7 linked regions of the Homo sapiens genome follow. The protein of the gene in region 1 interacts with the protein of each later gene in a pairwise test. Each region holds a gene or a part of one and is shown in the gene's direction. Other genes may lie near its edges.

Region 1 (3,500 bases):
ACCACCCTCTCATCTCCCCCTTTTGTTTTCAAAGAGAAACTGGTAGTCTGGGTAGATTCAAAGCATCTTTAAGAGAAAATGTCTTGGGGAGCCCCAAGGAACTGTTGAAGTTAAGTGTGCCATCGTTAGTGTATGCTGTTCAGAACAACATGGCTTTCCTAGCTCTTAGCAATCTGGATGCAGCAGTGTACCAGGTAAGTGGAGTTAATGATAATGAAAAGCACAGAATCTTTTATGGTAAAAAGAGTTTTTATTAACTCTTTATCATATTATCAATTTTTTTTTTTTTTTTGAGATGGAGTCTCGCTCTTTCGTCTAGGCTGGAGTGCAGTGACGTGATCTCAGCTCACTGCAATCTCCGCCGCCCAGGTTCAAGCGATTCTCCTGCCTCAGCCTCCCGCGTAGCTGGGACTATAGGCACATGCCACCACACCCAGCTAATTTTTTGTATTTTTAGTAGAGATGAGGTTTCACTATGTTGGCCATGATGGTCTTGATCTCCAGACCTCGTGATCCACCACCCGCCTCGGCCTCCCAAAGTTCTGGGATTACAGGTGTGAGCCACCGTGCCCGGCCATTATCAAATATTTTTTATTGATAATTTTATCAATGATACCAGAAATAATATATTTGTATCAGAGACTAACATTAACTGAATTTATTAATTCATTCTCTTTTTTTTAGGTGACCTACCAGTTGAAGATTCCGTGTACTGCTTTATGCACTGTTTTAATGTTAAACCGGACACTCAGCAAATTACAGTGGGTTTCAGTTTTTATGCTGTGTGCTGGAGTTACGCTTGTACAGTGGAAACCAGCCCAAGCTACAAAAGTGGTGGTAAGAAACAAAATGCACACCATAACTTCCCATAAATAGAAAACTTCCTTAAGTCTTATACTGTTCAGTTACATTGATGCATGCAGCATGACTACATTTCTTTGATTTAAAATAACTTTTGCCTTATAGATAGGCCTTTTTTCTTTAGCATATTATTAGGGATAATAATACTTATTGGTTGTTTCTCAGAGGAGAATATGCATAAAATATGTTACAGATGGAACATACCTTAGAAATAATGTGTTCCATCCCCTCCATTTTATGGATGACAGTCCCCAAAGAGGTGAAGGAACTTGTCCTAAATTAGTTAATAGCTAACTTGTGACCACAACTGTGCCAGTTTCCATACTGTATATGTTTAGAACTTCTAGACCTCTTTCAAACATCTCAGAAACACTGGGCAAGGTTTTTCTGCATCTAGTTTTCATCTTCTCTCTCAACTGTCAGTCTCTGGCACATCTCCCTACTGTCAGTGATCAGGATGACAAGGGAAGGAGTGTTCTTACTGATAATTGATAATTATCTTTAGTTTTTAAGAGTTAATGTGAAGGTACATAACAGATTTTTAAAGAGTTAACGCTAAGATACATACATGATTTTTTTTCTTACATTGTATGCCTCAATCAGTTATTTCCCCAAAGAGAAACAGGAAATGGGATGCCAGTGAATAGTTTTGTGAAGGTCAGGAGTTTCCTACAGTTGAATATTTACTCTAACTTTTAGCAAACAGACTATGGTTCTCTTAGGAATGGAAGGCGGCTGGGATGTACAGTGCTTGTGAACAGTATCATATCCCCACCCTCCAGGTCCCCTCCTTCCCCAATTAAAACCCTACTGTTTCTTTCTATAATATGGTTTCTAGACAGACTTCCTGATCCCTGCCTTCTGCCCCTACACTTTTCCTTATATTTTTCTCCTAGATGCATTCATCTGTCATTATTTCTCAATATATCCTAAAACCCCACTGTCTCCCAATGTTGTCTAAGTAATACGAGGCACAGTTTGGTAATTACCCCTTTGTTCTGAATACCGGAGACTTGTTATACAGTCATGCATCGCTTAACAAAGAATGTAAGTTCAGGGTTCTGAGAGATGCATCATTAGGTGATTTCACTGTTGTGCAAACATCATGGAGTATACTTACACAAATCTAGATGGTATAGACTACTTACTACACATCTAGGCTGTACAGTATATAGCCTATTGTTCCTAGGCTACAAACTTCTGCAGCATGTTACTGTGCTGAATACTGTAGCGAGTTGTAACACAGTGGTAAGTTTAGCGTACCTAAACATAGAAAAGGCACAAATATAGTTTTATCTTACAGGACCGCTGTTTTATATGTGGTTCATCATGGACTGAAATGTCATTATGTGGTACATGACTGTTAATTTCTGGGGGGCAGGCAAAGTATCTATTTTACAATTGATCATAAACCACTACATGTAACTGTGTCACCCAAATAGTTTGTCTCAAATGTATCTTGTATCCCTCTCACCCCACTGTTCCCTCAATCTGTCTGCACTGCCATGCACTCCTCCACTACTGGTTAAGTGGGTTCCAAGTGTCAGGACTGGAATAGACTCTCATTGACACTAGAACTCAAACTCTGGCTTATTCTAAACCAGAATGCAGGTTGAGTTTGTATTTATTAAGCTCTTCTTGTTAGCTTTGGGTCATTGCTCAGCCCCTTGAGTTATTTCCAGTTCTTACCCATTATTAGCTTCTCCTTTGGGTATTACGCTTTCCAGAGTCAAAAAAAATATGCCTTCTGGGTCTTTAATGAAAATTTTAGGTAGAACAGGACCAGAGTTCTGTGGCTGTACCTTTAGAATTCTCTCTAGCTTGATCTTTTTCTTGCTTACTGAACATATCATCTCTCATAGTTTTTATGGGTCAGGAATTTGAGGGTGCCTTAGCTAGCTGGTTCTGGCTTGAGGTTGCAGTCAAGATACTGGCTAGGGCTGCAGTCAACTGAAGACTTGACTACGGCTGGAGGATCTGTTTCTAACGTGGCTTATCTATATGCCTGGCAAGTTGGTATTGGTTGATGGCCTAGCTTGATTTTGTTCAATTAACTACCATTTTTCTGTATGAGCATTCACACACTTACGGATTGTACCTTTATCCTCACTACAGTTCTGTGTTGTCTATAAAAATATTATGTGGCTGGTCGCAGATCACCAGGTGAGGAGTTCGAGACCAGCCTGGCTAACATGGTGAAACCCCGTCTGTACTAAAAATACAAAAACTTAGCTGGGCGTGGTGGCAGGCGCCTGTAATCCTAGCTACTCAGGAGGCTGAGGCAGGAGAATCGCTTGAACCTGGGAGGCAGAGGTTGCAGTGAGCCGAGATCGCGCCACTGCACACCAGCTCGAGTGATAGTGCGAGACTCTGTTTCAATAATAATAATAATAACAATAATATGCAAGTCTGTCACATTTTTTGCCAAACATTATCTCTATGGAATTCCCCTCATCACTTAACATTAGGAGTCCTTTCAGTAAGGAAATCTGGTATGTTTCACACTTGGTGAAGTCACACTATTTTCCACTGATGACCATTAAGCTTTTTAAGTACAAGTCATCTCTAAATCTGTTCTAACATTTTGCTGGTAATCAATGTAACAATAACAGCTGCAATCATTTATAATGCACTAAATA
Region 2 (3,500 bases), on another chromosome or scaffold:
GCACTGGAAAAGGCATAATTTTAATGGAAAAAAATCACTGCCCCAACATTCTGCTTGATATATCAGTCCTGTGCACGGTTTTAAAAATGAGTCACTTTATAGAATATCATTACCTCTGACAGAAAATTCAAAATTCTGGCCAGGTGCGGTAGCTCATGCCTGTAATCCCAGCACTTTGGGAGGCCGAGGCAGGCGGATCACCTGAGGTCAGAAGTTTGAGGCCAGACTAGGCAACATGGTGAAACTTCGTTTCTACTAAAAATACAAAAATTATCCGGGCATGATGGTGCATGCCTTTAGTCTCAGCTACCTGGGAGGCTGAGGTGGGAGGATCACTTGAGCCTGGGAGGTGAAGGTTGCAGTGAATTGAGATTGTGCCACTGCACTCCAGCCTGGGTGACAGATTGAGACCCTGAAAGAAGAAAGAAAGAAAGAGAGAAAGAGAAAGAGAAAGGAAAGGAAAGCGAAAAGGAAAAGTCAAAATTCTGTATCTGGATTTCTAGAATTGAGAACCAGACATTGGACATTGATGTCCTCACTAAGAAAATGATATTCTAGTTGAAAAAAATAAAGCTTACATTGCTATCTCTTTTTACTTCCCCATTGCATATTTGTTGGCTTGTTTTATCTTTGCTGTAAGACTGTTGTCTTCTGGAGGATAGCTACTGCTTAGTCATGGTTGCATCTTCCACAACATCTAGAACAGAAAACATAAATGTTTCTGCAATAAAAGAATAAATGAGGCGTGGATATGTTCCCCCTACTTTCATGTGGAGAAGTTTACTGATCAAATGTAGCATGTACATAAATCACAGAGTATTTAAGAAACTGGCTGATCAAGCTGTTGGCTTTCTTGATGGCTGATTGACCAGTCCATCCCTGACTTCAAGGGCTTAAGTGCCCAGGCACTAGTTGCTAATGCTGCAGTTAGAGCTAAAGCACTGGCCTGGTCTCTGTCACTGTGACTCATCCTCTTCTAAGAATGGCTCTATTTTCTTCTACAATACTTAATTCAATGTTAAGCATTGTTGGCTTGCCGAATTGGGCAAAAACTGAATGTCTAAGATGAGCCAGTTGGTATTTCAGTTTAGAACTAGGAAAGCGCAGAGTTTGGGGAAACTTTCCAGAGGAGAGCCACAGCTCAAACCCAAGGTAATGCTAGAGATCCCTGAACATTTGTGCACTCTGATCTCTGGCTACCTTACAGAGTGAGGTAACTTACTTTCTTCTTCCTTATTCCTTAGGGCAAGAATATCACGGCATGGGCATGAGTAGCTTGAAACTGCTGAAGTATGTCCTGTTTTTCTTCAACTTGCTCTTTTGGGTAAGTGTATCTCTTCTGAGCACGGTTTAGCTCACCTTTACCCAGCTAAGCTCTCCTCATTCCTCTACTGAAGAGGCTGGTGTGGGGTAAAATGCATGCGTGTTTGGGTCATGTCCAGCACAACCATCCTAGAAACAAAAGAGTAATAATTTTTCCCCTCTTCCTGCCACAGAATAAACCTGCAAAATTGAAAGGTACCAGTGCAGTTATTAATGGAGGTGCTGTTTCTCTCTGAGGGCTTTAGTTTACTACTACTCGTAGCTAACATATATAGGTGAGAAACCTGAGACTGTGCTCTGGATATTGAGTGCCTCTGTTTTTCTTGTCTTTTTTTCTAGATTCCTTGAAACAATAAGTGATTGAAAGGAAAGTCACCCTTTCCAGGGAGGTTTCACTGTATAAAATTCAGCAATTGAATTTCAGATATAGGATGGGTTGGTACTTGTGTATATGAGAAGATTATTATAAGTTTGGCTTCTCTAGTTTTCTGCCTAGCAAGATGAGCTTCCTCAAGCAGGGCATCTTCTCTACATGGTCATGGTTTCTACAGAGAAAGCCATGTGTGAGCGACTGAAAAGATAAGGAAAAAGAAGTTAGACCTATATATGGTGAAGATACTGTGTGGCTCACAGAAGTGATCTTTCCTTGGTATCTGGAGATGGGTAGGAAGAGTTGTGAGTAGGTCTCCACATGAGAAAGCTGAGATTGCCTCTCCAATGTAAGCATGGAAAAGTTTGGTAAAGAAATTGTTCATGAGACTCTTGATTGAGCCAGTTAAAAATAAAGTGATTCTGATCTCAAGGAAGTGAGAATATGAGGAGATACCCAAGAACCACATTTTGCTTCAGGATGTTGTGGGATTCTTCCTTTCAGATCTGTGGCTGCTGCATTTTGGGCTTTGGGATCTACCTGCTGATCCACAACAACTTCGGAGTGCTCTTCCATAACCTCCCCTCCCTCACGCTGGGCAATGTGTTTGTCATCGTGGGCTCTATTATCATGGTAGTTGCCTTCCTGGGCTGCATGGGCTCTATCAAGGAAAACAAGTGTCTGCTTATGTCGGTGAGTCCTTACAGCAGATGTGGTGCCCCAAGTCGGGGAGATGGTGCCTAAATCCCAGGCAAGATGTTTCTTGGTAGATCACTTATAGGCACAGAAAGATCATAGGAAAATGAGATTGGTACCTCAGATCAGCCAAGTCTGCCCAGACCAATAGTATATTATGTATGACTAGGGTCCCACGGACAGGTGAAAGAGGGCATTGCTATCCCCCTTGTAGCCATTTTTATATTGCTAATAATGACTTTTGTCATTATTGTAATTCCCCTTTATAGCATTTTATTTTTTCTTTATGTCTGGATGAAATCAGGTGTCATCCATCTTCCAAAATCCTCCTCATGCTAGCTATTATTATGTACTTTCAGATTCTGACTGAGAGTCGCTAACTAATGGAAAATAATTTCTAGGCTCTTTCCTCCCCAAATGCCAAAGGATGCTTCCTTAACTCATGTCTGCACAAGATACTCCGTAGAGAGATCCAACTTAGGTGAGGGCTCTGGCTGCAGCCATTGAGGTCTAATGTGAGAGATGCTACAGCCTTTTGCATGTTCCCTATCAGGTACTATCCTGAGGAGTACCTTAAGGCTTAGGTTTTGCCTGTAAGCACAGTGCCTGTAGAGCACTGAGCTCTACATTTCTGTAGTGTTCCCAGAACAGAGCTTGGTGTAACAGTGCCACTCTACCAATAGGCGTGGGTTTCTAATCACATTGGTTCTTCCTTAAATCATTTGGTTAATCTTTTTTCCATTATGGTTCAACATTTTGGTGGTGGTTTTTTGTTTTGTTTTTTTCTTCTTGTTGTTGTTTTGGAGATGGAGTTTCACTCTTGTTGCCCAGGCTGGAGTGCAATGGCATGATCTCAGCTCACCACAGCCTCCGCCTCCCGGGTTCAAGCCATTCTCCTGCCTCAGCCTCCCGAGTAGCTGGGATTACAGTCATGCGCCACCATGTCCGGCTAATTCTGAATTTTTAGTAGAGACAGGGTTTCTCCATATTGGTCAAGCTGGTCTCTAACTCCCGACTTTAGGTGATCCACCTGCCTCGGCCTCCCAAAGTGTTGGGATTATAGGCGTAAGCCACTGCGCCCAGTCTGTATGGGTCAACTCTTAAACTGGAG
Region 3 (3,500 bases), on another chromosome or scaffold:
AGCACAAACTGGAGCCAGACTGCTTGGGGGTGTGGGGATCTGGCTGTGCTCTGTGATCGCTGTGTGACCTTGGGCAGGTCACTTAACCTTTCTGGTACTGCGTTTCTTCATCTGCAAAATGGGAGTAATATCATAGGGATGCTGTGAGGATCTAAATGAGTTAATACTGATGAACTAACTGCTTAGAACAAGGTTTGCCCCTTACTAAATACTGTGCACGGTGGTAATAAGTAATAATAATTGATTTCTCCTACTTTTCTTCCTCTAGTCTATATCACTACCCTTCAGACACACTGGACTCTTTTCTCTCCTTCATACAAGTCAAGCCTTTTTCTGTCTCCAAGTCTCTGCTCTTGCTGTTTTCTTTACCTGTGTTCTCTCTCACATATCACTTTATGCTCTTCAGATCCTTTGTCGCAATGTCACCCTTATGTTTTATGGTATGGTCCTGCTGTGTTTTTGTCTTCCCTGACTGCATGCTCACTCGTGCTCTCTCTCAATCATGCGCTCTCTCTCTCTCTCCCTCCCTCCCTCTCTCTCCCTCCCTCTCCCTCCCTCCCTCCCCCCCACTCTCAACTGTGTATTCTAGAGAGTCAGGACCTTCCTTCTCATTCTTGATCATTCTCATAGTAGCCCTGCCCCTTGAGTGGAACATGGCATTTAGTAAAGGATGAATAAGGGAAGGAATCATTCTGAGAAAATACTGAAGATGATAGCTATGGACTTGAGGCAAGCATCCCATTTAGGTAAAATGCTTTGTCCGACATTGAATTTATCATATCAGCTTCATTTAATGCATTATGAGATGTTGTCTTTATTTTTCCTTCTGTATCCCATGGCTTCTCACCATTCCCCTCCCCCTCCACCCCGCCCTCTGAGGTTGCTGCCTGCAGACCATGGGAAACATCCAGTGGGTTGTCCCTGGGATCACATCTCTTGGGAAGCTCAGCTCCAAAGGGTCTAGCAAAGCCCAGGGCTTCTAGGTTAGGTATCTCCCACAGAACCTTCTGTGTCAAGAATCTGGGAAAGTTTGTCCTTATACCTGCAGGGGAACCTGGAATTTATTCTGTCTTGTTATAAATCTAGTATTCTTAGATTCCTGAAGAACAGAATTACCAGTTTTTTCTCAGAGGAGATTTCATCAGGCATGTGTGTTTAGTGCCTTATTACACAGAAGGCACACTCCAGAGAAGAAGAAAGCAGGTAATTTGCTTATTTGGCTTTAACAGAGTTTCAACAGAGTTCGTGTGAGTGCAAGCTTGTGCTCTATAACCAAGAACCATTCACTGGAACTTGAGCATCCTGCTGATCTTCCCTCCCCCACTCCCAGCCAGTGCAGCCATGTATTAAGCAATTGTTTTCAGTACCAACAGTTTACCAAAGTGTTGGAATAAAAACGACATCTAAAACTTGAATATTTTATATGGCCAAACTATGGCTATTTAACTATACAGTTGAATATATTTGGATTATAACATATTTATCTCTTAAAGGGACAGATCTTCCATCCTCCTAACATATAGTTAGCTTCCACTCTCCAAATATTCCACCAGCAACATTGATGAATATTGAAGACTATGGACTGTGAGGTACTGTGAAAGACCCACTCTAGGACCTGCTTGCTGCTATTTGCCTTACTTGAACCAGTAATCAAGTGCTGGATAAATAATATGATTTCTATTCAACTTTTTGTTTTTAGCCCTTAGGGAACAATCTACTGAATATGCAATGCAATTGTCGGGGGATAGTTACTTTTCATTACCTAGGTTTCTGTTCCTTCTTTTAAGTGTAATTTAAATCTGGCTGTCATGAAGGTTTGGCGCTCAAACAGATTTTAGCATCTGTTTAATGTAGAAGTGGACTGGAACTAGCATTCTGAAAATGTAGTCTGAACCCAAAGAAATCCCATGACTCTCCTTTTCTGTCCTATCATAGAAACAGATAATTACATTTTTAAAGTTTTTGTGTGTGGGTGTGTGTGTTGTCATTTTGAGGTGGGGTTTCACCATGTTGCCCAGGCTAGACTCAAACTCCTAGGCTGAAGCAGTCCTCCCACCTCAGCCTCCCAAGTAGCAGGGATTACAGGTGTGCACTACTGCACCCAGCTTAAGTTTTACTTTGTTTCTAATAGATATATAATATTGGATATATTTATGAGATACAGTGTGATGTTTTAGTACGTATATACATTGTGTAATGAGCAAGAGGATTGCGTTTATGGGCCAGGCACGGTGGCTCATGCCTGTAACCCCAGCACTTTGGGAAGCCAAGGTGGGTGGATCACCTGAGGTCAGGAGTTCGAGACCAGTCTGATCAACATGGTAAAAACCCATCTCTACTAAAAATACAAAAATTAACCGGGGCGTGGTAGCACACACCTGTAGTCCCAGCTACTTAGGAGGCTGAGGCAGAAGAATCACTTGAACCTGGGAGGCAGAGGTTGCAGTGAGCTGAGATGGCACCACTGCACTCCACCCTGGCAACACAGTGAGACTCCGTCTCAAAAAAAAAAAAAATTGTTTTTATGTTACTTCCCTCTAGGCTCTTTAATTTCTCCATTGAGCATTGTGTGAGCTCCGCTGAGCATTGTATGGAGGGTCAGCTGCCCTGGCTGGAGATGGTTTTGAGGCTTGTTCCTTCGTGGAAACATCTGGATGCAGAAGTTAGGCTGTACAACTATCCAGGGGAGCTTTAAGTGAGCCAAGTGGACCCTCAGCACCACCTCAGAGTGTTCTAAGCTACCGTCTGGTGTTTGGGACTCAGGGAAGTCCTTTTGGTATGATCAGACTAGCCCTTTATGTGACTATCCTTGTGTGTTACTCTCATTAAAATATTGATTTTTGCCATGTAAGGAAGATTGGAATAGCACAGGCAGCCGAATAAGGATTTTAATGAAACATTGGAGAATGGCTTCAAGTTAATCTGTGAATGCTTTGTCATTGTCCCATCCCTGGACACATTAAAAAGAAAAAAAAGAGCAGTTGAGAAATTGCAGTACAATTTGAGGAGAGCAATATCATACACAGAAGTAGGGACTACTTTTGTCAAAGCTGGATTTTATTTATTTGGGAGCAAAGAGAGAGAGCTGAAAGACATAATCTTCTCTCCCTTAAGAATCTCATTGTCATTTAGTAAAATAAAAGGTAGTGTCACTTCATGGCTCAGAAGTGGTAAATTATTTGAGGCAGGTACCCAAATCCATAAAGCCTGCCTTTTGCTTTGTTTGTGGAATGCTGATTGTGTGCTGGGGAATTTCTGATGGGCAGCCAAGAGGAATTTGGGAAGTAGTGAAGGAGACCTTTACCCCAGGAGTGTTCTATTGGATGTAGTTCAGGAAGCTTTCTGGGTAAGCCTTGCAACCAAAGGAACCCTGCCCCAGTAAGATACGTCAAATGGTGGCAGAAGCAAGAATTAGAGGAAAGGTTGAGCAACATTTTGGTATTTGAATAGCTGTGTTCCCAGGAAACTCTGTCAGTAAAATTTCTAGAGGTTAAGTACCT
Region 4 (3,500 bases), on another chromosome or scaffold:
ATTTTATGTGTGGCCCAAGATAATTCTTTTTCCAGTGTGGCCCAGGGAAGCCAAAAGATTGGACACCCCTGTTCTAGAGCTTAAAAAATACTATATATGGAATCATACAGTGTATATTTTTTTGGTGGTCTGACTCTTTTCATTCAGTATAATTATTCTGAGATATAGTCATGCTATTACTTGTAACAATAGTTCATTCCTTTTTATTGCTGAGTAGTAAGTAGTCTGTTGTATTTATATACTACAATTTGTTTGTCCACTCACCTGTTGATATACATTTGTGTTGTTTCCAGTTTGGAGCTATTAAATAAAAATAAAGCTGCAATTCAAATACAAGTCTTTTATTTATTTATTTATTTCAATTTTTTTTTTGAGACGGAGTCCTGCTCTGTCACCAGGCTGAAGTGCAGTAGCTCAATCTCAGCTCACTGCAACCTCCGCATCCTGCATTCAAGCTATTCTCCTGCCTCAGCCTTCAAATACAAGTCTTTATATGGCTATATACTTTTCTTTATCTTGGGTAGATTACTAGGAGTAGAATGGCTGGGTCATATGGTAGATGTTTGTTAAACTTTGTAAGAAACTACCAAATTGTTTTTCAAAGTGGTTGTACATTTTACTTTCCCACCACCAAAGTGTGAGCGTGCCAGTTGTTCCAAATCCTCACCAGTACTTGCTATGGTCATTATGTTTAGTTTGAATCATCCCAGTAGGTATGTAATAATTTCTCACTGTGGCTTTAATTTGCATTTTTCTAATGATTAAAGATGTTGACTATCATTTAATCTACTTATTTACCATTGTATATGTTCTTTTTTTTTTTTTCGAGATGGAGTCTCACTCTGTTGCCCAGGCTGGAGTGCAGTGGCGTGATCTCGGCTTACTTCAAGCTCTGCCTTTCAGGTTCACGCCATTCTCCTGCCTCAGCCTCCTGAGTAGCTGGGACTACAGGTGCCCGCGACCATGCCCGGCTAATTTTTTGTATTTTTAGTAGAGACAGGGTTTCACCGTGTTGGCCAGGATGGTCTTGATCTCCTGACCTCGTGATCCGCCCGCCTCGGCCTCCCAAAGTGCTGGGATTACAGGTGTGAGCCACCACGCCTGGCCTTGTATATGTTTTTTGATGAAATGTCTAGTTAGACCTTTTGCTCGTTTTTAAATTGAGTTTTTAAAAATTATTTTTGAATTTTGAGAGGTTCTTATATATTCTGGGTTTAAGTCCCTTATTAGACATATGCTTTGCAAGGATTTTTCTCTCAGTCTGTGATTTGTCTTTTCATTCCATTAATAGTGTTTTTGAATTGTAGTTTTTAATTTTGATAAAATCCAATTTACTAATCTTTTATTTTATGGATTGTGCTTTTGTTGTACTACCTAAAAATCTTTGCCTAACCCAGGGTCACAAAGTTGTGTTGTTTTTTTTTCTTGCAAATTTTGTAGTTTCAGACTACATTTAGGTCTATAATCTATTTTTAATTACTTTTAACTGGTGCCAGATATATATAGAAGGTTTTTGTTTTGATTTTTTCCATATGGATATGGATATCCAGTTTAACCAGCACTTTTTTTTTCTTAATAACTATTCTTTTCTCTCTGAATTACCTTTGCATCTTTATCAGATTTCAGTTTTTGTATATACGTGGGTCTATTCCTTTACTTTCCATTGATCTATTCGTGTATTTTGATTCCAATACTACACAGTTTTGATTACTGAAGCTTTATAACAAGTCTTGAAACCAGATAGTGCTAGCTGTTTTACCTTGTTCTTTTTCAATGTTGTTTTGGCTGTTATATACGTTCTTTGCATTTCCATATGAACTTTAGAAATTAGCTTGTCAAGTTTTAAAGAAAAAACCTGCCCAGATTTTGGTTGAGATTGCCTGGAATCTATAACTCATTTTGGGAAATGTTGATATCTTAATAAAAATATTCTGTCTCTGAAAAAGTCTTTTTAAATTAATAGGCCTTTTAACTGTCTCAGCAATATTTGATAGTTTTCAGTAGTCAAGTCCTTAATTAGATTTGTCCTCAAGTATCATTTTTTTATGCCTATATAAATTTTTTTAACGTTTCAATTTCTTATTGATTGTTGTTAACGTATAGAAATACAATTAATGGTAGATCCCGTTGAATTTTCCACATAGAATATCACACTTTTATTTCTGCCTTTCCATTCTGGATGCCTTTTATTTCTTTTCTATTTTTTTCTTTTTTCTTTTTTTTTTTTTTTTTGCTGGATTGCATTGGCCAGAACTTCCACTACGATGTTGACTAAAAGTAGAAAAAGCAGACATGCTTGTGTTGTTCATGATCTTAGGGAGAAATTATCAAATTTTTTTACCATTAAGTCTCATATTACTGTAGGTTTTTCATAGATGTTTTTGATCAGGTTGAGAAAGTTCCCTTATACTTTGCTGCAATTTTTTTTTTTAACAGGAATGGATGTTGAGTTTTGTCAAAGGCTTTTTCTGTCTCTATTGAGATGTTTATATGGTTTTTTGTTTTTAGTTTGCTAATATAGTGAATGACATTTGATTTTTAAATGTTAAACCAATCCAACATTTCCAAACTAAGCACCAGTTTTTCACAATGTAGTATCCATTTATATATTGTTGGATTTAATTTACTAATATTTGGCTAAGGAGATTTGTGTCTAGATTCATAGAATATTAATAGTTTTCTTTTCTAGTAATATCTTTGGATTAGTATCAGTGTAATACTGGCCTCAAATAATGAGTTGGGGAAATATTCCTTCTTCAGTTTTTTGGCAGTTTGTATAGAATTGGTATTATTCCTTCCTAAGTGTTTTGTAGAATTTACCAGTGAAGCCATCTGTGTCTGGGAGATTTTTATAACTACAAATATAATTTCTTTAATAGATATATAGATTTTCAGGTTGTTCTTCTTATGCTTTAGTAATTTGTGTCTTTCAGGGAAGTTGTCCATTTCATCTCACTTGTCAAGTAAATACAGGCACAAAGGTGTTTGTAATAGTTCTTCAGTATCCTTTTAATATCTGCAGACTCTAACAATGTTATCTGTCTTGTTTATGATATTGGCAAAAGTCTGTTATTAAGGACACGTGTTTTAGATTGTTATGTACTTTTTATTAATTGACCCCTTTATCACTGTGAAATGACCACTTTTATACCTGGTAATGTTATTTTTCCTATAATCTGTCTAACATTGAAATAGTCACTTCACCTTTCTTTTGATTAGTGCTAGCATAGTATATTTTCTCCTATCCTTTTACTTTTAACCTATTTGTGTCTTTTTATTTAAAATGCATTTCTCATTGGCAACATGGAGTGGGGCGGTCTTTCTTTCTTATTCAATCTAACAATCTCTGCTTTTCAATTGGAATGCTATACAATTTGCATTTAATGAGATTATTGATATGGTTAGATTTACGTCTGTCATCTTATTTGTTTTTGGCTTGTCCCATGTGTTATTTGTTCTCTTTTCTTTGTTTCCTGCTGCCTTTTCAATTGAGTAGTTTT
Region 5 (3,500 bases), on another chromosome or scaffold:
TACCCTAGGGCATGTGTACAGGCAGCTAGGGGTGAAGTAGATGGGTGAGTGTGTGCTGGTGTGGGCTGGGCTGTATTGCCTATAGGCTGTGGTGAGTATACAGATTGGTGTGGGCAAACATTGCACTTAATAGTGTGTGTGTGTATCCATTGGGGTGCATAGTACATGCAGAAGAATATATATGCATGAGGATGTTGGGCTGTCGTGTGTGTGTGTGTGTGTGTGTGTGTGCATGCGTGCGCGCGTGTCTTGGGGGTATGGAAGCCTCCTATCAGGCATGGGGGGGTTGTGTTTACCTGGAGGGGGCACAGTGAGGGTCAAGGAGAAGCTGGCAGCGTCCTGGGGCTTTTGGATTCAGTTCTCCTTTAAGGGAATGGCATGGATAATTATGCTTATTATGATGGATTATGCAAATGCGGAGGTCGTTTGGGGGTCAAAGCCTGCTTGTCACCCTCCTCCTCAGGCATTCTGTGACTTCTAAGGCTTTCCCTGCTGCCTCCCAGGCTCCGTTCCCCAACCCCTATTTCTCTGTCCCCTCTGGGAGTTGCAGCTACCAGCACCCCCTCTGTAGTGTTCCTGAGAGGGCCTCATGAGTCCCAGCGCCCATGCCTGCAGGTCCCAGGTGTCCTCGCATTAAGTTCCCGCTGAGCATCCCAGGTGGGCTCAGGGGTGACTGGGCCGTTCCTCCCCCTGCACACCCTGCCATTGGGGATGCTTGCTGTTCGGAAAGAATGTACTCTTGGAAGCAGGTTTGGAAAATTACTGAGGTGGCCCCTTCCCCAGCCTTGCCTCATCAGCATGAGGCTAAATTAGGATGTGTGAGTTCTCCCCTCTGCCTCCCACCCTTGCCTTCTCTCCTTCTCTCGTACCCCCAGCCCACCCTCCCCGTCTCTGCCCCTCTGCCCCCTGGCCTCCCTCAGTCCTCGACTCTCTGTCACCGTCTCTGTCTCTGCCTCCCCCTTCCCTGTCATCCTCTCAGTTCCCCCGTGATCTCTCCCTCTCCTGTACCACCCCATCTCTGTGGGGAGCTGCAGCTCCTGGTCGTTAGCATGGAGAAGATGGTCGTCATGGTAACGGTTGTCATGTCGATGGCTACTGAGCTGGGGATGAATAGTATGTAGGTGAGCGCTACCTGAGTGGAGGCTGATGGGTTTCCAGGAGGCTCGATGCTTGTCTCTGAGCTCAGAGCTGCACAGCAGGCCCAGCTCCTCCTGCCCCATGTGAGTGGCTGTTTTTACCCCCAGGCATGCTGACACGCTGAGCCCTCTGTGGCTGCTTTTAGGTGAGCATGTTTCAGTGTGTGTCTGTGCATGTGCTGTGTCTCTGGGGTGTGTCATTTCAAGGGTCTATGTGGCATGGGGGTAGGTCTTTGGGTTTGTACAGGCTTTTCTTGGAGCAGGAAGTTAGGGGCTAAGTGGCACTGGTCACTGAGGAATCTTGGGGACTCCCTTGTTTTGGCACCCACATTTACTTCAGTTGGGGGCTTCCAGGGACCACAGACCTCTTAGTATCCCTCCTCCCAGCTAAAGGCCTCCCAGCCACTGCCCAGCCTACTGGGAAGGATAGAAAGACAGTGAAGACAGCCCTGGGCAGGGGCAGGAGCCGGAGCCTGGGTCCCTGCTCAGTCCCCATTCTTCTGTGTGACTTCAGGCTGCTTGCCAGAGAGCTGGAGGGAGCAGGGACTCCAGGTTGGCTGGTTCAGGTTGTGGAGGGGAGTGCCATGGGGAGTTCTAGCTCCTCCACCGTGGGTATTTTTCTTTCTGGGCAGAGGGGAGCTGGGGAAAAGTTGGGCCCTACTGCTCTGAGCTCCTAGAATGTTTAAAAAAGGAGGAAGACCCAGCAATTCGTCACGGGAGAAATTACACTAATTGTTCCACTCCATGACTCACTGGTAGAAAGTAAATACTGATTAATTCATTACTTTGAGACTATGTGTGTGTGTGCATTTTGTGAGGGGGCACCTCCTGGCTCCCTGCCCTGGCTGGGCTGGGCAGGGCTCTGGAGCAGGTGGTTGAGGCTGGGGATATGAAGACAGGATTGAGATCCTCACTCTGGCTCTGTATCAACTCCAGAAGGGGGCCCATCAGTGGCAGGGGGTGAGAGGCTGGGCCCCAAATGCAGGGCCATTCCAGCCCTCGCCTGCTCACACATGCCCCAGGGCTCCCCACAGCCAGCCCAACATTGCGGCTGCTCAGAGACCACCCCAGACCTACTGAACCACTGAATTTAGTTTTCACAATATTCAGATGTGCAGTCAAGATGAAAAATGACCAGTTTCTAAGAGAAAGTCATCAGCCAGACACTGAAAGCCTTCTGGGATGGGACCCCAGGTGACTTGCCACACCCCACCCCTGCCCTGTGAATTATTCACACACGCACTTTCCTTCAGGGTACACACAAGATCTCTGTCACCCACGTGGATGTCACTCAGCCCACAAGGGCACCTGTCGCCCTTCTGGGCTCACCCAGGCTGCCAGTCTCGGGTGCCGAGCCCTGTGTCCACCTCTACCTTCCCTAGGCCCAGCGCTGGCGCAGTGAGAACTTCGAGAGACCCGTGGACCTGGAGGGCTCTGGGGATGATGACTCCTTTCCCGATGATGAACTGGATGACCTCTACTCGGGGTCGGGCTCGGGCTGTAAGTACCCCCCTCCCTACCTCTGCCTGGGGGCAGTGACCAGTCTGTATCCAGCCTCAACTCTGAGAAGCCCACGGGGGGCTTGCTTCAGTGAGGCAGGGGGCATTCACTGCCTGGGTCAGGCAAGTTCTTCTTGCTCTGGATCCCCAGAACAAGAAGGGCAGAACATCCTTCTGGGGATAGAACAAGACCTGGGAGGACCTCAGGGCCCAGAATGTCCAGGTCTCCAGGGTCCCACGTCTGCATCTTTGTGTGTGCTATGTGGCTTTCTCTGCAGACCTTGCTTGGTTCCGGTGGTCCCGTCAGGTGCAATAAGCTGTGGCCAATGGTGGGGTTAGGGCAGTGATGACACAGGGCAGGTGCTTCAAGTGGTGCCTGGGATGGCCCCGCCCTGGGGAAGGGGAGCCAGGTCAGCTGGGTCTAGCAGAATCTCGGGAGAGAAGGGCACCGCGAACCCCACTCTGCCATGTAGCAACTGTGTGCCCCTCGGTGCTCCCCCTCCCTGAATCCCTGTATTTTCACCTGTGGATGGTGAGAAATACGACTTCTTCTCAGTGCCTCTAGGAGGGTTTGGGATAGGAAGCTGGGGTCTGGCACAGAGGAGGAGCTCTCAAAATGGTAGCAAAAAGAAGGCAGCTGAGACTGGGCCCAGTGAGGGCACGGGCTGGCATCTGAGGAGATGGTACGGGGTCTGCACGCCACAGAGCTGGCTCCCCACAGCCCTCGCCTCTGGTCTCCCCTCCTTAGCCAAGTCCTTTGAGCCTCTTTCAAATTAATCTTTGTAAAACCCGTTTATATTGGGTCACATCTCTATTCGCAAAGTTCCCTGGCTCCCCTCCCTCCTGCCTGGTTCCGAGCCCAGGA
Region 6 (3,500 bases), on another chromosome or scaffold:
CTTTTTAATGATGTTATTTCATGAATATTATATAAATAGAATCATACAGTATATATCCTTTTGAGATTAACTTTTTTCAATCATCCTAATTTTCTTGAGGTTCATCAAAGTTGTTGCATGTATCAGTACAATAGTTAATTCCTTTTTATTGCTGAGTAGTATTCCATGGTATGTATATACCACAGTTTGTTTAACCATTTATCCATTGAAGAACATTTGAGTAGATTTTAGTTTTTAGCTATTCCAAATAAAACTGCCATGAACATTCATCTACAAGATTCTGTTAGAAAATACATTTTCTTTCTCTGGGATAAATGCCAAAGAGGACAATTGTTAGGTTGTACGGTGGTTGCATATTTAGTATATTTTAAAACTGCCCAACTGTTTTCCAGAATGGCAGTACTGTTTTATGTTTCTAGCAAGCTTATGAGTGATCCAGTTTGCTCTCCATCCTCACAATCATTTGGTGTTAGCATGATTTTTTTTAGCCATTTCTGATGGGTATACAGTAATAGCTTGTTGTGTTTTTATTTGCACTTACTAATAGCTAATGATGTCAAACAGCCTTTTATATCTTATTTGCCATATGTGTACTTTTTGTGGTGAAATTCTAACAGTATCTTTTGCCCATTTTATGTTGGATTAATTGTTTTTTAATGTTGAGTTTTGGGAGTTATCTACATTGAAATCTTTTGTTGGATATGTGATTTGTAAATATTTTTCCCAACTCTGTAATTTTTCTTTTCATCCTCTTAATGGGGTCTTTCACAGAGCAGAAACTTTTATTTTGATGAGGTCTAAGTTACCAAATTTTCCCTTTACAGAACAGTACTTTTGGCATATTTTTAGTATCAGGTTAAAGAACAGTTTAAGAAATTAGGTCTCAAAGATTTTCTCCTGTGCTTTTTTCCCAGAAGTTTTATAGTTTTACATTTAAGTCCATGATACATTTTGAGTTCATTTTTGTAAAGTTATGAGGTTTAGGCTGAGGTTCATTTTTTTTTTCACCTGGGGATAGATAATTGCCCCAGCACTATTTATTGAAAAGGCTGTTCCTCCCCCATTGAATTGCTTTTGATTATATGTCAAAAATTAATTGCACATATTTGTGTGGGTATAATCTGGGTTCTCTATTCTGGGTTCTTTATGTGTCTATCCCTCTGAAAGTACCACGTCTTGATTACTCTAACTATATGGTAAACCTTAATATCAGGAAGAGTGATTCCTCCCATTTTGTTCTTTTTCAAAATCATCTTGGCTCTTCTAGAGCCTTTTTCTTTCCATATACATTTTAGATAAAGCTTTTCTATGTCTACAAAAAACCTTTCTGAGATTGTGGTAGTAATTCCATGAATCCTATTGATTAATTTAGGTATAATTGACATTTAGCTATGTTAATTCTACTAATTCATAAACACAGATATCTCTAAAAGTTTTAGGTTTTCTTTTTTTAAAATATATTTTTTGAGACCAGGTCTCGCCCTGTCACCCAGGTTGGAGAACAATGGCACAATGAGGGCTCACTGCAACCTCGAATTCCTGGGCTCAGGTGATCCTCCCGCCTGAGCCTCCTGAGTAGGTGAGACCATGGGCATGCACCACCATGCCTGGCTAATTTTTGAACTTTTTTGTAGAGACAGAGTCTCCACTTTGTTGCCACAGTTGGTCTCAAACTCCTAGGTTCAAGTGATCCTCCCACCTCGGCTCCCTAAGTACTGGGATGACAAACCTGACCCACCATTTCTGACCTTTGTTTTCTTTCATCAGCATTTTGTCATTTTCATCATACAGATCTCATGCATATTTCATTAGATTTATACCTAAGTATTTCATTTTATTTGGCACAATTGCCAATGGTATTTCTCTTTTTATTTGTTTCCATGTGCAATTGATTTTTGTGTCTCGACTGTACATTTCCACCTTACTGAACTCAGTTATTAGTTCTAGGAGGCTTTTTGTAGATTGTTTGAGATTTTCTATGTAGATAATCATGTAGTCTGCAAAAAGAGGTTAATTTTTTCCTTTCACATTTGTATACCTTTTTTTTCCCTCATGGCAGTGGGTAAGACTTTCAGTATTATGTTGGATAAGAGTGGTAGATAGTGGACATTCTTGCCTTCTTCCCAATCTCAGGAGAAAACCATGCACTTTTTTACTATTAATTAACTGTGATGTTAGCTATAGGTTTTTTTGTAGATTATGAGATTGGGGAAGTTATGCGCTATTCATTTTTCTAAAAGTTTTTATCATGAATGGTTGTGGAATTTTTTCAAATGCTTTTTCTATCCCAACTGATACGACCATATGACTTTTTTCTTTAGCCTGTTGATATGGTTACTTTGTTAGATTTTTAACTATTGAGCCAACCTTGCATACCTGGATTAATCCCATGTGGTTGTGGGTTATTATTCTTTTTATGCATTATTGGATTTGATTTGCCAGTATTTTGCTAAGAATTTTGTGTCTAAGTTCATGATAAATATTGCTCTGTAAGTTTCCTTTTTGTATTTTGTCTGGTTTTGGTATCAGGACAATACTGGCCTCACAAAATGAATTGGGATGTATTCCCCCTCCTTTTATTTTCTGTAAGAGATTGTGTAGAATTGACATTAACTCTTCTTTAAACATTCTGTAGATTTCTCCAGTGAAACCATCTGGACCTGGATATTTTGTGGGGGAAGCTTTTAAATTACAATTTGATTTATTTAATGGTCATAGGATTATTCAAGTTATATCTGTTTTGCTTTGGCTGAGTTTTGGTAATGTGTGGTTTTTCAAGGACTTGGTTCATTTTTTCTAATTTATCAAGCCAAAAGTTGCCCCTAGTATTTCCAGCTACTCTTTGGATGGCTGTGGGATCTGTTATAATACCCCATTTCATTCTTTATATTGGCGATTTCTGTCTTTTCTCTTTTTATCTCTGTTAGTCTTGCTAGAGGTTTATGCATTTTTTTTCAAAGAACCTGCTCTTTTGTTTCAGTAACTTTTCTCTATTGTTTTTGCTTTTAGTGTCATTGATTTCTGCTGTTATTCTTACTATTCCTTCTGCTTACTTTGAATTTATTTTGCTCTTTTTCTAGATTCTTGAGGCAGAAATCTAGATCATTTTTGAGACTTTTTTTCTTATGTAAACATTTAGTCTTTTACATTTCCCTCTCAGCACTGCTTTAGTTGCATTCCACAAATTGTGATACATTGTGTGATCATTTTCATTCACTTCTATGTATATTTTTATTTTCTTTGAGACTCCCTCTTTGACCCATGGATTATCTAAATAACCCATGGTGTATGGTGTTTAATGTCCACATGTTTGGAGATTTTTCTGTTATCGATTTCCAGTTTGATTCTGTTGTGGTCAGAGAATATACACTGTATGATTTCAAGGGTTCGGTAGCTACATGTGACTGGTGGCTAGATGGAGACATAGAGCATTAAGATTTTAAAGGCTTTGGCAGGTTGAAGCAAATCTCTCAAAAATTAATAGAGTTAACTTTAATAAG
Region 7 (3,500 bases), on another chromosome or scaffold:
GAAATGGGAATGTAATTGTAGCCAGGCACTTTATTTGTGTTTAAACTTCATTTGTGCATTTAGTCTCTCCTCAACTCTGTGAAATAGAAATGATTTTACCTGGTTGACAATTGGGAGCTGGGATAGCATCGGTTCTCTAGACAAGCTCTGTGAGTTTTGGTGAGTGGTAAGGACCCTGTACAGAGTCAGAGCAAATGCACTGGGCAAGGGCTTCAGGGACCTTCGAGTAGCATCTTGACATTTACCAGTGTTATAGAACAGTTAATATCAACAATAGTTTTGATGGAGACCATTAAAGGTTATGTGTTGAAATATTCTAAGAAAAAGTTCCTTTTTAAAAAAAAATTGTTATATTGCCATTCCTTGCTCCTTTTTTGGTCTTTATTTTAGCATTCTTATTTAAAACAGATTTTGAGCACTCTTTATGTGAGCTTTCCTGACTTGGTACATGCTTATTTTTATGGAGAATTTTAATCTTATAGAAATATACTATTATAGTGAATTAAGTGTATCCACCACTCAACTTCAATAATTATTAACTGTTGGCTAATCTTGTTTCATCTATTCCCAAACTCACCTCCCACTCCTCTTCCCTGTTATTTCTTTTCTGTTTTTTTCCCTTTCCTATGATGCCAAGCCTGTGTTTTTTTTTTAACAGCTTTACCAAGAATTCCATATCAGATAATTTGCACACCATACAATTCACCCCTTTAAACTGTACAATTTAGTGGCTTTTAGGATGTTCATAGAATTATTCAACCATTACCACAATTTTAGAACATTTTTATTACCCTGGAAGAAACAGTTTAGCTGTCATTCACCAATCTTCTGGTCTTAGCCCTTGGCAAACACTAATCTACTTTCTATTTATGGATTTGCCTATTGTAGACATTTGATAGAAATGGGATAATGTGTTGTCCTCTGTGACTGGCTTCTTTCACTTAGCATAATCTTTTGGAGATTCATCCATGTATCTATGTATCAGTACTTTTTTTTTTTTTTGAGACAGAGTCTTGCTCTGTCACCCAGGCTGGAGTGCAGTGGTGCAATCTCTGCAACCTTTGCCTCTAGTTTCAAGTGATTCTCCTGCCTCAGCCTCCTGAGTAGTTGGGACTGTGGGCCCACACCACCACCTCTGGCTAATTTTTGTATTTTTAGTAGAGACTGGGTTTCACCATGTTGGCCAGGCTGGTCTTGAGCTCCTGACCTCAGGTGATCTGCCTGCCTCAGCCTCCCAAGTACTTGATTTTTGAAAACAGCCAAATAATATTCCATTGTATGGATATACTGCTTTTTATTTCTTTTCAATTGTTGATGGACATTTGGATTGTTTCCACTTTTTTTTCCTTTTTTTGAGACAGGGTCCTGCTCTGTTGCCCAGGCTGGAGTGCAGTGGTGTAATCTCTGACCTCCTAGGTTCAAGCTGTCCTCCTGCCTCAGCCTTCCTAGTAGTGGGACTACAAGTGTGCACCACTATGCCTGGCTAATTTTGTAAAATGTTTGTAGAGATGGGGTTCTGCTCTGTTGCCCAGGCTTGTCTCAAATTCCTGGCCTCAAGCACTTCTCCCATCTCATCCTCCCAAAGTGATAGGATTACAGGTGAGCACCACTGTGCCCAGCCCACTTGTTGACTGTGGGCTGGGCACAGTGCTATATTATAATGCTGCTATGGCTGGGCGTGGTGGCTCACGCCTGTAATCCCAGCACTTTGGGAGGCCGAGGTGGGCGGATCACAAGGTCAGGAGATCGAGACCATCCTGGCTAACACTGTGAAACCCCATCTCTACTAAAAATACAAAAAAAAAAAAAAAAAAAAAAAATTAGCCAGGCGTGGTGGCAGGCGCCTGTAGTCCCAGCTACTGGGGAGGCTGAGGCAGGAGAATGGCATGAACCCGGGAGGCGGAGCTTGCGGTGAGCCGAGATCGCGCCACTGCACTCCAGCCTGGGCGACAGCGAGACTCCGTCTCAAAAAAAAAACAAAAACAAATAATGCTGCTATGAACATTTGTGTACAGGTTTTTGTGTGGACTCCTGCATACCTGGGAGTGGAGCTACTGGGTCATATAGTAACTTTTTTTTTTTTTTTTTTTTTTGAGACGGAGTCATGCTCTGTTGCCCAGAGTGCAATGGCACAGTCTAGGCTCACTGCAACCTCCGCCTCCCAAGTTCAAATGATTCTCCTGTCTCAGCTTCCCGAGTAGCTGGGACTATAGGCGTGTGCCACCACACCCAGCTAATTTTTGTATTTTTAATAGAGATGGGGTTTCACCATGTTAGCCAGGTGGGCTCAAAACCCCGACCTCGTGATCTGCCTGCCTCAGCCTCCCAAATTGCTGGGATTACAGGCGTGAGCCACTGCGTCCAGCCATATAGGAACTCTTTAACCATTTGAGGAACTGCCAGATAATTTCCCACAATAACTGTACCTTTTATTTTATTTTATTTTATTTATTTTAAATAGACATGGTTTCACTCTGTCGCCCAGGCTGGAGTGCAATGGCGTGATCTTGGCTCATTGCAACCTGTGCCTCCCGGTTCAAATGATTCTCCTGTCTCACCCTCCCAAGTTGCTGGGATTATAGGTGTATGCCACCACACCTGACTAATTTTTGTATTTTTAGTAGAGATGGGGTTTCACCATGTTGGCCAGGCTGGTCTCGAACTCCTGACCTCAGGTGATCCACCCACCTCGGCCTCCAATAGTGCTGGGATTAGAGGTGTGAGCTACTCTGCCCAGCCGTGCACCAGTTCGTATTCCTACCAGCAGTGTCTGAGAGTTTCAATTCCTGTGGTTGTGAAATAAATCTCAGATATAATTTCATCCTAAAGTATTTTAGAATGTATTAATAAAGTATGAGGGATTTCTTTTTCAAATATAAACATAATGCCATTATAGTATCTACTAACATTAATTTTTAATATAATCAAATATTCAGTCAGTATTCAAATTTCTTTCTTTTTTTTTTTTTTTTAATATAGAGACAGGGGCCTCACTCTGTCACCCAGAGTGGAGTGCAGTGGCACAATCTCACTGAATCATTGAACTCCTGGTCTCAAGTGATCTTCCTGTTTCAACTTTCCAAGTATCCAGGACTACAGGTGTGCGCCACCATGCCTGGCTAATTTTTTTTTTTTTTAATTTTTTGTAGAGACACGGTCTTGCTATGTTGGCCAGGCTGGTCTCAAACTCTTGGCCTCGAGCAATCCTTCCACGTCAGCCTCGCAAAGCACTGGGATTATAGGCATGAACAACCGTGCCTGGCTTTGTGTTCAAATTTCTAATTGTCTTATAAATGTTATTTTAGGCCGGGTGCAGTGGCTCATGCCTGTAATTCCAGCACTTTGGGAGGCTCAGGTGGGCAGATCACTTGAGATCAGGAGTTCGAGACCAGCTTGACCAACATGGTGAAACCCCATCTCTACTAAAAATACAAAAATTAGCTGGATGTAGTGGTGTGCACCTGTAATCCCAGCTCCTTGGGAAGCTGAGGCAGGAGAAT

What was found.
Region 2: the proteins of SLC35A1 (region 1) and CD53 interact in binary tests that used the Homo sapiens proteins (3 or more experiments, as listed by UniProt).
Region 3: the proteins of SLC35A1 (region 1) and MGST3 interact in binary tests that used the Homo sapiens proteins (3 or more experiments, as listed by UniProt).
Region 4: the proteins of SLC35A1 (region 1) and EBAG9 interact in binary tests that used the Homo sapiens proteins (3 or more experiments, as listed by UniProt).
Region 5: the proteins of SLC35A1 (region 1) and SDC3 interact in a two-hybrid assay, tested with the Homo sapiens proteins (one large-scale study listed by BioGRID).
Region 6: the proteins of SLC35A1 (region 1) and ASZ1 interact in binary tests that used the Homo sapiens proteins (3 or more experiments, as listed by UniProt).
Region 7: the proteins of SLC35A1 (region 1) and F2RL1 interact in a two-hybrid assay, tested with the Homo sapiens proteins (one large-scale study listed by BioGRID and IntAct).

The regions. Positions count from the first base shown.
Region 1 is NC_000006.12:87,500,474-87,503,973, forward strand, and holds part of SLC35A1 (CMP-sialic acid transporter), read left to right. Parts: intron 1-34; coding exon 35-194; intron 195-684; coding exon 685-837; intron 838-3,500. UniProt on the Homo sapiens protein: Transports CMP-sialic acid from the cytosol into the Golgi apparatus, functioning as an antiporter that exchanges CMP-sialic acid for CMP. Binds both CMP-sialic acid and free CMP, but has higher affinity for free CMP.
Region 2 is NC_000001.11:110,890,148-110,893,647, forward strand, and holds part of CD53 (leukocyte surface antigen CD53), read left to right. Parts: intron 1-1,244; 5' UTR 1,245-1,261; coding exon 1,262-1,324; intron 1,325-2,197; coding exon 2,198-2,386; intron 2,387-3,500. UniProt on the Homo sapiens protein: Structural component of specialized membrane microdomains known as tetraspanin-enriched microdomains (TERMs), which act as platforms for receptor clustering and signaling.
Region 3 is NC_000001.11:165,634,234-165,637,733, forward strand, and holds part of MGST3 (glutathione S-transferase 3, mitochondrial), read left to right. Parts: intron 1-3,500. UniProt on the Homo sapiens protein: Displays both glutathione S-transferase and glutathione peroxidase activities toward oxyeicosanoids, as part of cellular detoxification as well as synthesis of bioactive metabolites.
Region 4 is NC_000008.11:109,546,673-109,550,172, forward strand, and holds part of EBAG9 (receptor-binding cancer antigen expressed on SiSo cells), read left to right. Parts: intron 1-3,500. UniProt on the Homo sapiens protein: May participate in suppression of cell proliferation and induces apoptotic cell death through activation of interleukin-1-beta converting enzyme (ICE)-like proteases.
Region 5 is NC_000001.11:30,877,759-30,881,258, reverse strand, and holds part of SDC3 (syndecan-3), read left to right. Parts: intron 1-1,168; exon of another isoform or gene 1,169-2,318; coding exon of another isoform or gene 2,319-2,330; intron 2,331-2,518; coding exon 2,519-2,636; intron 2,637-3,500. UniProt on the Homo sapiens protein: Cell surface proteoglycan that may bear heparan sulfate. May have a role in the organization of cell shape by affecting the actin cytoskeleton, possibly by transferring signals from the cell surface in a sugar-dependent mechanism.
Region 6 is NC_000007.14:117,375,494-117,378,993, reverse strand, and holds part of ASZ1 (ankyrin repeat, SAM and basic leucine zipper domain-containing protein 1), read left to right. Parts: intron 1-3,500. UniProt on the Homo sapiens protein: Plays a central role during spermatogenesis by repressing transposable elements and preventing their mobilization, which is essential for the germline integrity.
Region 7 is NC_000005.10:76,825,530-76,829,029, forward strand, and holds part of F2RL1 (proteinase-activated receptor 2 preproprotein), read left to right. Parts: intron 1-3,500. UniProt on the Homo sapiens protein: Receptor for trypsin and trypsin-like enzymes coupled to G proteins.